Regions from separate parts of the Homo sapiens genome. Here regions 2 and 3 are each reported to be linked to region 1. Evidence: microRNA targets listed by miRTarBase, many of them from high-throughput screens and not tested one by one. Region 1 holds a microRNA gene; each other region holds the end of a gene's coding sequence. Distances are from middle to middle.
The links. The annotated mature microRNA hsa-miR-4803 reads UAACAUAAUAGUGUGGAUUGA and lies in region 1 at 2,485-2,505, opposite strand. An mRNA with a match to its seed (bases 2 to 7 or 8) in the 3' UTR can be bound and repressed. Matches are read on the target gene's strand: a 7mer-m8 pairs with bases 2 to 8, a 7mer-A1 pairs with bases 2 to 7 and ends in A, and an 8mer does both.

Region 1 (4,243 bases):
CTCCACTGCATCATTTCAAAACTCCACTGCATCATTTCAAAGGGTGAGGTGGAGATGGATCATTCGTAAGTGACGACAGAATCAGCACCTACGCATTTCCTCTTTGCACGGTGCCTGTGTTGTTCAGTCATGGCTGGATGCCTAGCTGCCCAGAACAGCACACCCGGTTCCCAGTGACCTTGGTTCTTCCCTCTTCCAGACCTGAAGGGTGATTCTCGGCACACCAGGGGCACAGTCCTGATTCTACTTTCCTGTTCTTTATCCTTAGTTACAGGCCCTGTCTGGGAAACCAAAATGATGTCTCATTTAAAGCCTAGTTCTCAACTTCTCCCATTTGGGTTTGATTGAATCCCAAACACGTTTCTTCCACTTTAAAAAAAAAATTTTTTTTGAGGGAGGGTCTCACTCTATCACCCAGGCTGGAGTGCAGTGGCATGAACATGGCCCCCTGCAGCCTCGACCTCCTGGGCTCAAGTGATCCTCCCAACTCAGCATCCCCAAGTAGCTAACACTACAGGTGTGTGCCACCATGCCCAGCTAATTTCTTCTGTTTTTTGTAGAGATGGGGTCTCACTATGTTGCCCAGGCTGGTCTCAAACTCTTGGGCTCAAGTGATCCTCCCACCTCAGCCTCCCAAAGTGCTGGGATTACAAGTGTGAGCCACTGCAGCTGTCCTTCTTACACTGTTAAATGCCTTTTCTTTAAACTCTTGGCCCACAGATGGTCTTTCAAGACCTCGACTGCATCTTCAGGCACTATCCTTTGCTATGTTTATCTCAAAAATGTCCCCCGAAAAGCCACCATATTTGCTCATGTTTTCCTCTTTACCCTTTTTCCTTATTCTGAGCAGGGAAGACTTCAGTCTTTTCCCCCTTTCACTTTACCCTTTCCTACTCTATGTTGTCCTGACACGCAGCAGCAAGAGAAGGGTGTCACTTTTGAAGGCTTGATAAGCTACATGAACATAAAGCTTTGGATAGATATTCTAGCCCTATATATTAAACATTATTTTATGTTATTTTATTTTATTTTTGAGATGGAGTTTTGCTCTTGTTGCCCAGGCTGGAGTGCAGTGGCACGATCTCGGCTTACTGCAACCTCTGCCTCCTGGGTTCAAGCTACTTTCCTGCCTCAGCCTCCCGACTAGCTGGGATTACAGTGACCTGCTACCACATCTGGATCATTTTTTGTATTTTTAGTAGAAACAGGGTTTCACTGGTCTCGAACTCCTGACCTCAGGTGATCCACCCACCTCAGCCTCCCAGAGTGCTGGGATTACAGGCGTGAACAACCGCGTCTGGCTATATTAAACATCAAAGAGGACCACGCAACAAGGTCTTGGCAGGTTAACTGTTCTGATCACCTCTTCAGAGGCTCTGCCACAGGGGATACTGAGCCACTGTGTATGGGATAGTCCCAGCTCCTCTCGGTGGGCAGAAGGAGGAGAAATTTAATAAAAGAACTTTCTCCAACTAAACCTTTCACCACTTCTCCTTCAACCAAATCCAAACCCTGTATTTCAGCAGTAAAAGATTTATTAAAAGGCTAAATAAAACATTTAGTAAAGGGTAAATGCTTGCACGAACTATTGAGTACTCTCTTGGAAACATCATACAGAGAGCTGACCTTCTTGTAAAAGCTTCCCTTCATACCATTGTTTTTAGAGCAGATAAAGAGATGTGAAACCCAGCTTGCTGCTGACTCAGGCCTATGGAGAATCATACTTTGACGGATAGGATGCAGGCCCTTGGCTTTTAAATTAGCCATTGAGTTTTCCATTTCACCTAATAGCATTCAACTTAAAGAGCCATACTACTAAAGCTTACATGAAATAGACTGGTAATTTACAATGCTGATGTGTTCATTTAATTTCCACTAACAGGAATCTAAATTTTTAGTAAATCAGATATTCATGCCAGTTGGTCACTGCATTCATTTTTTGCCCTAGTGGGATACTTTGCTTGAAGGTTGTTTTAAATAAAGAGTGTTGTTTGGTGATAGAATTTACTGTGCCATAAAATAAGGCATCATACCTACTTAAATCTAATCCATTTCTTACATGTTCAGCTCATATTTTTATTTCCTCAGGGAGTATCTCTCTGTCCACTTCAATTCCCAGAGTTGTCTCTTATCCCCAAATTCTGGTATAGCAGTTAACAGTCTCTATACTATATAGCTCAATTAGAGGATGTACATAGTATTTATATGAGCTATTGCCTCCAACCAACTTATAAGACTCTAGTTAACAAAATGCTTTTACATACTTTCATGTACCTCTCATTGAACTTCCTGTGAAGGTGGCAATTTCTATGTAAATCTCACAAAGCCTAGATCCGAGCCTTCCACCTATAGGGATTTAGGTGATGACAATCTTTTGCAAAAAAGGACAACTAAAAATATAGATACCCATAGTTACACACAAACACTCACTCCACTTCTGAATGGGATTTAACATCATAGTGTGGGTTGAAATGTGTGTGTGATTCAATCCACACTATTATGTTAAATCCCACTCAGAGGGATTTAACAAGCAAAGTAAACAATCAAAGTGTGATTTGCTTACTTTGTCTTTAGAAGTAAGCAAATCAGGTGATCTACCTTCAGGATCTGAAAAATATACACCTGGGCCATCATTAGAAGAAACCCACTGCCATGCATAAATAATTAAAAAGAAGACATTGCCTAGCTCTTTTCAAGTGATTAGGGCCAAAAACTGCCCCAAAGTGTCAGGAGTTGTTTGTGTGTTTGGTTTTCTCACACGCGCATTGGATTTTGCCTGTGGTCATTCTGCCACCCCTTAAGATCTCTTAAGGAATTAAAATGAGGCATCGTTAGATTTCATTTTGATTTTATATTCAACGACAAGGTCTTCACAAGGTCACTATTAATGGGGTGCCACAGTATGCCCCCAAACCATATTTTTTGCTGAAGGTTGATTTCTTACCTTAACAACCTATTTTTTATTTGTTTTAAGATGAGTACCGTTGACCTCTGGGATATTATAATTGAAAGAATACATCTGCTTATTTAGGAAAATGTGATGTAGTAAACCAAAGGAATTAAGTTCTGGGCCATATATTTAATTAATGGTTTACTTAACAAACAGAGATTTGTTTCTGAGGCAATTCAACCAAATCTGGCCAATGGGCATTTTCAAGGCATTGATAAATGTACTCTGAACCAACAGACGTAGCTCTCCTGAGAAACAGGTCTGAAACCCATGACAAAGAGCAAGTCAAACAAGGTAGTCAAATAAATTCTGTCCTCTTCTATCTTCTTTTTAAAAGACTGAAATTTTAGTTTAAAATGAGTCCAAGGAGGGAGGGAAATAATCTGGGGACTTTGGGGAAAATTGCCCTTGAGCAAATCCCCAGATTTTAATTTCCATGAGAAGTAACAAGTTCTCTTAAGAAAGGCAGCATGCATAAAATCACTTTCTACATTCCTGTCTTGCATTATTCTCCATTGGGTATTTTTTATGTATTTATATACACTTGGAATATATGCAATGATCCATATGTATGCTAATCAAAGTTCTTAGAATGTATTACTCTTTGCTCTTTCGTAAATAAAATAGTATAAATTGGGAGCATATTTTGTCTCTGTAAAAATGCCAACAGGTAAGCCGGCCCTAGAGAAAAATGGACCAAATCAAGCTCTGCCAGAGCTCTGGAGTTTAACTGAAAGAAAGAACATCTGATTCCTGCCCAGAAAGCAACACTGAACACCTCATTTATTTTGGAGCAGAGGCTGTTGCTGGAGAAGCTGGAAGGTGAGATGGAGCACCCTAAGGTTGCCGAGGGCACCACTGCTCAGTGTAAACTCAGATATCTGGAAAATGCAAGGCTTCAAAGTTAAGGATTGGAAAGGCAGGAGGTGAGCAAGCCTGAGGCCCTCCTCAGCTCAGGGCCTTGGCCAAGCGACAGGAGCTGGACAGGGGCAAGAGCCAAGTGGAGGAGCAGTGCTTTCCGTGCGTCAGCTATCCCTCCAGAGGAGAGTCTAACCACATTCCCGACTCCAGTTCTCTTTATTCTCATAATTCTTAAATGACAGAAGATGATGCCTTAATGTGTTATCTACATCGTTCTGAAAAATACTTGCATTTCCTTCCGTCACATCTAATCAAATTCATTATAAAAGTTCCTGTTTCGTAACTACAAAACTGCTCTAAAGAATGTTACTTTTTTATTTAAAAAAAATGAAGGGTTACTGGGGGAAAGAAAGTCTACTTATCAATACTTCT
Region 2 (4,243 bases), 74 Mb from region 1:
TAAAATTCATCCTTTTATGAGGTGTGGAAGTCAGTGACTTGGTGACGTTCTTCCTAGCAGTGTTAATACATGCAAGAAGTAAGAGCATTTGTGGCTTGAACTTGCCAGATGCAAATACCACAGACTCCAAGAAAACCCGAGTTGGGGTTTGTTTTGTTTTGATTTTTTTTTTTTAAAGCGGGTAAAAGAGAAAACACTGAAAATTGAATTCTTATCTTCCAGAGGCTACAATTATTATAATGGACAATACTTTTACCTTTGTCTCTAAAGATCAGATTAGTTTTATTTGTTCACTTACGTGCTTTGATTATCCCCTCTGAATTATAGACCGAGTCTTGTTGTTTAGCCTAAGAGAAGATTTATGTAGTAATTTCTTCTCAGGTATGGAACCACGGTCATAACTAACATGTTGGCCAGAATAGAACCACTGGTTAAACATATTTTATTCACCATTAAGTGATCTTTATCAATATTCTGGATTAGACAACAAATTACCTTTCTGGGTGTTTCTTGTAAACTATACTCCTGTTTGAATGTTAAACTTTGTTGCTAAAGTTTAATTTTAAGATGTTTGAATGTTCAGTTTATGTATTTGAACTACAATAAACCAACCCTTTTTATATATCTGTATTGTATATGATTATTGTTACTTAATTTTTAAGAGCTTATTTTAACCTGTTTTTAAAAGCAGCAAATAGAATTTCCCACAAAGTAAGTTGACTCTAAATCTTAAGTATTACCTAGTTTTTAAAGGTTTGAATATAATAATGCAGTATTTGCAGTATAAAAAGGAAGGAATTTGTAGAGAATCATTTTGGTGCTCAAGTCTCTTAGCAGTGCCTTATTGCCTCATAGCAAGAAGATGCTGGGGTTTTTTTTGTTTTTGTCCTTTGTATTAATGTATGATGGTTTGCGCCTTTTTGGCATTCTTTCAACATGTCGTGTACATCACACCATGAATCAGTTCCTAATTGATATATCTAGCTTTACCTCCCGAGTTAAAAAAAAATCTTTTTATTTTATGCCTTCATAGGTTGCTCGTTTCAGAGTGCCACATAAATAAAATGTTTAACAAAATATATATGTTAATAGAATAATTTATTTTCCATTATCTCATACCGACTATGATTGTAACAAATCCTAGAAAGAAGGAATACCAACAGATCTGTATTTGTATGTTGTGTGCATACAGTCACAGACACACACATTCACATCCATGTTATATAGTTCATAGCTTAAATCTATTAAGTGCCATGGAAATTTTGTGAACTCTTTATGTAGGAACCTGGCATTGATCAGACTAAGGTCTTCAGCTGTAAAGTTGATAAACAGGATATGTTTTTTCTTTTTATGCGTACAAAGGATCTTACTCTGTCTCCTAGGCTGGGGTGCAGTGGTGCCATCATAGCTCACTGTAACTTTGAACTCCTGGTTTCAGTGATCCTTCTGAGTAGCTGAGACTGCAGGCATGCATTACCATGTCTGGCTTTTTTTTTTTTCTTTTTAAAATTTTTTTGGAAATGGTTTCACTCTGTTGCCCAGGCTGGCCTCAAACTCCTAGCCTCAAGCCATTCTCCCACCTCGGCCACCCAAAGTGCTAGGATTACAGGCGTCAACCGCCACACCTGGCCGCCTTCTGTTTCCTTTTTTTTCTTTCTTTGAAGTTCATTTTATAAGTTCATTGAGTGATTTTTAAGTACTGTGAGGAATGAAATTGAAGTGCTTGCCAAAAGGAGCACAACTATTATGTAGTATGTAGAAATACGACTGTCTCACAAGGGTAAAGTTTCCAGAATGCCTTATTTTGTTATTCTGAATTCCACATAATATTGTTTGCCCACTTACTACGTTGTTTCTCACAGTAGAGAAGTGAGAAGAAAACAGTTTGGTGATATCTGTTCTAATTTCCTACTTTTGTCTTAAAGTATCTGGGTTTGATCAGATAAGATACAAATCAAACTTCTCTAAGCAGATTTTTTAAGGGATCAAGTCGGGACTTAACTTTGTGTATCAGGTTCTTAATGAAAGGTTCATTGTAATTACTCTTTGTTCCAGTGTCTGCATCTTGATTTGGTGCTTGTTAGCAAACTCTGAAAATCAGTTCACCTTGAGACCTGTTCCAGTGTTAAGGTCAAACAGCCCCATAAAGCTCCATTGTTCCTAATAATGATTTTGGAATGATAATTCAAGACAAAGACAGCTTTAAATCTCCAAAAACTATCGGAAGTAAAGCGTAATTATTTTTATTTCTTTACAAGTTTAAAGTGTCAAACCCTGGAAGCTTACATCCTAAATTTACTACATATAATGAACATAAAAATTATTTATTCAAATAATCACAGACAATGATAATCCTTTTTATAACTACCATATCACAAGACAATATTTTGGATTCTTGGGTTAAATTTTACTTTATTTGAATACATGAGCTTCAAATAAAATTTGTAATGAAGGATGTAAAAAGAATACAGCCCTACCTCCTGTGTTAAAAAGCAAACTATGACCACTTATGAAAAAGCAAAGAATCCGGAAACCCATAGACAAAAAGCAAAATCTTTTTTTTTCCATAACATATCCTTTATATTTCAGATTCTCCATGGCTTGGTTTGCCCTAAAGGCATTTCTATTCTGAGGGAAACTTTCAGTGAAAATACCCGAGTTCCATAACAAAGTAATCAAGAATCATGGGTGAATGTCATTATACTTAAAAGGGGCAGAAATATATCATAATCATGTTTTATTGGGTATGTTTTACCTTGCTATAAAATGAATGGTTATTGCCTGTTACTCAGATTTTACCGTATGTCTGGGTACACAGTTTTACTGCTTTCTGCATTGCCCTTATGCTTTTTATTTTGTATTCTTAACCAAATTCTGTCTTGGTTTGTTGAATTTTCTCTTTTTGATATTAATCTCTTTCTCAGGTTGCTAGATTATTTTTATAACTTAGCCTATAGTATTTTAAAAGTTGAGTAGGGTTCAAGTTCAATGTTCTGAGTAAGGGTAAGTTTAGTACCATTAACAAGAAAGATCACCATCTCCATCTTCTATTTGTATTTGAGGAGTAATCTATACCTATATCATTAACCATGGTTTATCTTGGGAGAAAGGAGATATTAGGAGGAACACATTTCTGCTTATAGAAAAATAACTTTCCCACATTTTGGAAGTGAAGAGAGGACATTTTTTTAAGTATTTTTTCCCCCATATCAGACTACTGAATGTCATTGGAAAGCTGCTACAATTCTTAGACTTAGAAACTGAAGACTCATTCAGGTAGCTTTAAAAAGTTCACTGAAGCAGGCTTTAGTTTAAGTTTGAATTTATTTAAACTTGGCCAGAACCAGCCATGGCTTGAAATGAGTCCAGAATTGGAATAAGGTGCTGTTTCTTTTTCTTTGACCTTCAGTCATGAACATTATGATACGGACTTTTCATCAAGTAAATTAACACTTATTAAGTAAATGAAGAACGCATTAAAATTTATCATTAATGTGTTAAAAATCTCAAGTGAAAGTAGATTTTGAGCTTTGGTTATGTGAAATACAATTTAGTAGGTAAAATTAGGACTAGCAGGTCCTGGGTGAAACTGAAGGTAAAGGGGCTCAGCTTTGACAGAACCTCTACTGCAGGCTCCAGCCGGTCCACTACAGGGCTGGTCCTAGGGGGTACCCAGTAAAACCACTGTGAACAAATGACAGAATAGCCAGGCTGTCTAATCACTTTGACAGCAACATCTTTACACAACACTTAAATTGTTTGGGAAGCCAAGTTCTAATTCTGAAACAATTATTACTTCTAACATGGTTCTCTACTTACCACATTGCACATTTGGAAAGTGTAGATTGTGAAATATTTTTATAATTCCTAATGGTAATAATTATATCAGTTTGTAAAGTCAGCAATATTGATAAGCAGCAGTACAAGTAAATACAATAATCACAGTTTGTTTTGCTTTGAAACTTAAATCTATTTAACACCTTCCCCTGTCTCTTGATCTTCATGTTCCCAGGGGATAGGGTCATTGTCCTGTACAGAAGGGACTGTGTCCCTCTCATGCCAAAACTGCTCTACGTCAGGAAGGATGGGAATCTCTGCCTTCTCAGTTTTCCCTTTGCCAGAGGAGGGAGAGCTGGGTTTCTCTTTTTCTGGTATGGATGCTGGGGATTCTGGAGATGGAACCTTGTCAGGAAGACCCTCTGAGTTGCCAGCTGGTGTTTCCTGAGACTCTGAGACAGTTGGA
Region 3 (4,243 bases), not on the chromosome of region 1:
GGTGGCTCATGCCTGTAATCCCAGCACTTTGGGAGGCTGAGGCGGGAGGATTGCTTGAGCCTGAGATTGAGGCTAACCTGGGCAACACAGGGAGACCCCATCTTTACAGATTATTAGAAAAATTAGCCAGGTGTGGTAGTGCACACCTGTGGCCCCAGCTACTTGGGAGGCTGAGGTGGGAGGATCCCTGAGCCTGGGAGGTCAAGGCTGCAGTGAGCCATGATCACACCACTGCACTCCAGCCTGTGCAACAGAATGAGACCCTGTCTTTAAAAAAAAAAAAAAAAAAGGGCCAGGTGCGGTGGCTCACACCTGTAATCCCAGCACTTTGAGAGTCTGAGGCAGGTGTATCACTTGAGGTCAGGAGTTCGAGACCAGCCCGGTCAACATGACAAAACCCTGTCTCTAGTAAAAATAAAAAAATTATCTGGGCATGGTGGCAGGTGCCTGTGATCCCAGCTACTCTGGAGGCTGAGGCAGGAGAATCGCTTGAACCCAGGAAGCGGGGTTTGCAGTGAGCTGAGATCGCCCCACTGCACTCCAGCCTGGGCAACAGAGCAAGACTCCATCTCAAAAAAAAAAAAAAAAAGCCTACACCTTACACCAGATTATAGATCAACACACTGCTTCCCTTCATCAGGAAAGCCTTCCTTTAACAAAGTGTGCTTTTTTCACTCTGATTAAAGTTCTTTATCTCACTATGAACCAATCATAAACAGTTCCCGCACTGGCAGCCATCCACAGAGCACTGGTCTAGAAGCCCGTCCAGAAGCACACCCAAATGGTTAATGTTGCAGCCTGCGGTGTCAAGCATCACCTGTGTTGTTTCCCCTTCACAGCCCCGCTTCCCTCCTGTGCTGCTGAGGCCTGGTGAGGAGTATGACCACACCACCTGGTTCAAGTTTTCTGTGGCTTAAGGAAGTGTGAAGATATGATCCAGTCCAGGGCTAGGCTCAGCCACCTGTCTCCTGTCCAGAAAAAAGGTGAAGATTAAGAAGCTTTCAGAATGATTCTATGGATTAAAATCATACAAATGGTGGCTGTTCTGAGAATCAGTCTGGGTATTGATTTCCTTTTCCAGTGACTGGCTCCAGGCCATGTCTAATGACCAGCTCGATTCCCTGTGCAGTTCAGAGGGCAAGTGAACCCAACCAACAATGTCGTCATCTAAGCCCTGACCCTAGCCAGGGACTCCCATGCTGCTGTTGGCTCCATCTCTCCACACTGCCTCTTTCTTTTCAACTTTTTGCCCTTCCTTTCTTTAAAGCTATTCTCACATTGCTTTTATTTCCTCCTCCTTCACCTCCAACCACTGTCAGCAGCACTCTGGAGTTTTCAAATGTCACATTAGCCTCACCCTGCATGCTAGGAGATGGACCTGTCTCTATACAGCAGTAGATGATTGATAAGTGAGGAAACTGAGGCTTACAGAGGTTGAAGACCAACAAGCTAATAAATAAAAAGTTGAGGCCGGGCACGGTGGCTCACGCCTGTAATCCCAGCACTTTGGAAGGCCGAGGCAGGCGGATCACGAGGTCAGGAGATCGAGACCATCCTGGCTAACACGGTGAAACCCCGTCTCTACATAAAAAATTAGCTGGGTGTGGTAGCACGCACCTGTAGTCCCAGCTACTTGGGAGGCTGAAGCAGGAGAATCGCTTGAACCTGGGAGGTGGAGGTTGCAGTGAGCCGAGATCATGCCACTGCACTGGGCAACAGAGCAAAACTCGATCTCAAAAAAAAAAAAAAAAAAAAGGAAAAAAAAGCAGCTCTCTCTCTCGGGAGAGGGAGGGGACTTCCGAGAGGAAAAGGCCTGCAAGAGCCTTTGGGTTAACTGAGAAAGCACAGCCCGGCCAACGCTTGGGAAGAAAGACAGGCAAGCACTGGAAACAGGAGCTATTAGGGTGAGGAGAGAGCCTTGCCTTTCACAGCACAGTGAGGATGACATTGCACCAGGGACAGAGATTGTATGTGACAAGGCTGGGGCTCCTTCTTTCCTAGACAATCAAAGTATCAGTGATGGGTTTTGGTTGGTGATTTTGAAAAAAAAAAAAAAAAGTATGTTATACTAGTGTATGCTGTACTGAATTGAAATAAAACCAAAATCTGCATCTTCAGAAGACTTGTTCCTTTACTCAGCTTGAAATCTCTCAGGCGTGGACCTTTGGGAAATGGACCAAGAATATGGGTGTGTTCTGGATTCTACTTTGCCCTCCAGTGGGAGCCCTGGCATTTTCCTACCTAACAGTTAGGAAAGCTATCTCAGTGGAAGTAGCTTTCCACACCTCCTCTTTCTTTGTAACCGATAATAAACCAAAGATCTTGTTTATTTTTTAATTCACTTCAGCATGGATTTTTCTGAGCACCTGCTCTGTACACAGCCCTCTGCTGGGTCTGTGAAGGGATTCAGGTCAGGTGTGATGCTGCCCACAGCAGCCAGTCAGGTGAGGTACATGCTCAGTTGTCTTCTCACTGGTGAGGTTAACTTTGGTGACTTGAGCAAGATGCTGCCTGCAGATCTCTCCACTCTTATTAAAGTTACCAATATATACATTAGCCAAGAGGCCTCAGAGGTGAACTATTAAGCTGACTGCAACCTAGCTACCAATTTGATTATTAAATTGTTCGACGCAGGGTTCTCATACTCTAGGTGCCAGCAATCATTTAGGAAATCCCAGAGAAGAAGAGAATGAACATTTTCTTATTCACAAGTGTAGAGTTGCCAGTTGCCCCTGCTTTCTGTATCCTGACCAAAAGTCACAGAGTGCCTTGACCTTTGTCACCTAGCCAGCTGCAGATTTTTCCTAGCAGGCTTGAACCCAAACCGGGCCTTGAACATTCCCAGGCACTGATAAATCTGTCTAGGTTGTTCCCTAAAACACTAAAAGAAACTGGCACTGGGCCGGGCGCAGTGGCTCACGCCTGTAATCCCAACACTTTGGGAGGCCGAGGCGGGTGGATCACCTGAGATCAGGCATTCAAGACCAGCCTGGCCAACATGGTGAAACCCCGTCTCAACTAAAAAAAAAAAAAAAAATACAAAAAAATTAGCTGGGCATGGTGGCGGGTGCCTGTAATCTCAGTTAGTCGGGAAGCTGAAGCAGGAGAATTGCTTAAGCCCAGGAGGCGGAGGTTGCAGTGAGCCAAAATCATGCCATTGCACTCCAGCCTGGGTCACAGCAAGACTCTCATTGCACTCCAGCCTGGGTGACAGCAAGACTCTGTCTCAAAAAAAAAAAAAAAAAAAAAGAAAAAGAAAAAAGAAACTGGCTCTGGCCCTGAGCCAAATTCCTTTAACTGTCATAGAAACTCCCTCACTGCTGATATACCTGGGCAGAACACCCCTTTTCTCTCTCAACCATTGCTGCAGCACTCTGTAAGGAAGTTCCTCTAATAAATGCTTTGGATTGATCACCCTGGCGCTTAGAGCTTCTTTCTTTGAAATCCCAGCCGGCCCTATCTCGAGATAGTTTGGATCACTCCCTGATGGGGTCTCCCCTGCTGCCACTATGGGGGCGATTCCAGCCCTGGATCCACTGAGACAAAACAAAGAAATGTAACAACTACAAACTAGTTCTTAATGTAATGGCCTCTAGGTTTGAGAATGCCAAATTAATTAATTAATTAGCCAAATACTTTGTTTTCTTCTGTCCAAAAAGATTATTGTTTTTATAAGAAGCCAAGTCTACAGTAGTCCAAGTAAGGATATTCATTGCCTGTAGGGCAGCTGAAATAAGTTACTGGCCTTTAAATTAATGGTGTTTATAAAAGCAAGTAAAAAAGGCGGCCAGGCGCTGTGGCTCACATCTGTAATCCCAGCACTTTGGGAGGCCAAGGTGGGTGGATTGCCTGAGGTCAGGAGTTTGAGACCAGTCTGGCCAACCAGGTGAAACCTGGTTTGAGACCAGTCTGGCCAACCGTCTCTACTAATAATACAAAAAAATTAGCTGGGCGTGGTGGCATGCACCTGTAATCCCAGCTACTCAGGAGGCTGAGAGAGGGAAATTGCTTGAACCAGGGAAGTGGAGGTTGGAGTGAGCCGAGATCTCGCCACTGCACTCCAGCCTGGGCGACAGAGCGAGACTCTGTCTTAAAAAAAAAAAAGGCTACATTTGTCACACCATGCATCTGAGGGAAGCAAAAATTTAGAGAAACTCTTTTTGTGGCAGCAACCAATCTGTCCTTTTTCATGAAACACATAACTTTGCTTGAGAAGCCCTTCCATGTGCTTATAAGACATAGA

Region 2: the mRNA of GPR151 is a reported target of hsa-miR-4803. Seed matches in the 3' UTR shown: 7mer-A1 at 2,568-2,574 and 7mer-m8 at 2,311-2,317.
Region 3: miRTarBase lists GALM as a target of hsa-miR-4803. Seed matches in the 3' UTR shown: 7mer-A1 at 2,060-2,066.

The regions. Positions count from the first base shown.
Region 1 is chr5:72,167,738-72,171,980 of GRCh38, reverse strand. MIR4803 (microRNA 4803) reads right to left here and starts at 2,514; the gene lies at 2,441-2,514. All of the region lies in intron 2 of MAP1B (microtubule associated protein 1B), which reads right to left.
Region 2 is chr5:146,510,885-146,515,127 of GRCh38, forward strand. It overlaps GPR151 (G protein-coupled receptor 151), which reads right to left. Exons shown (of 1, transcript NM_194251.3): 1 at 2,260-4,243. The coding sequence ends at 3,970. TCERG1 (transcription elongation regulator 1) reads left to right here. Exons shown (of 23, transcript NM_001382548.1): 23 at 1-1,077. Among named protein-coding and RNA genes, the nearest start is that of GPR151, 3.2 kb to the right of the region's middle.
Region 3 is chr2:38,732,649-38,736,891 of GRCh38, forward strand. GALM (galactose mutarotase) reads left to right here. Exons shown (of 7, transcript NM_138801.3): 7 at 840-2,117. The coding sequence ends at 917. LOC124905993 (a long non-coding RNA gene) reads right to left here and starts at 902. Exons shown (of 3, transcript XR_007086292.1): 1 at 818-902.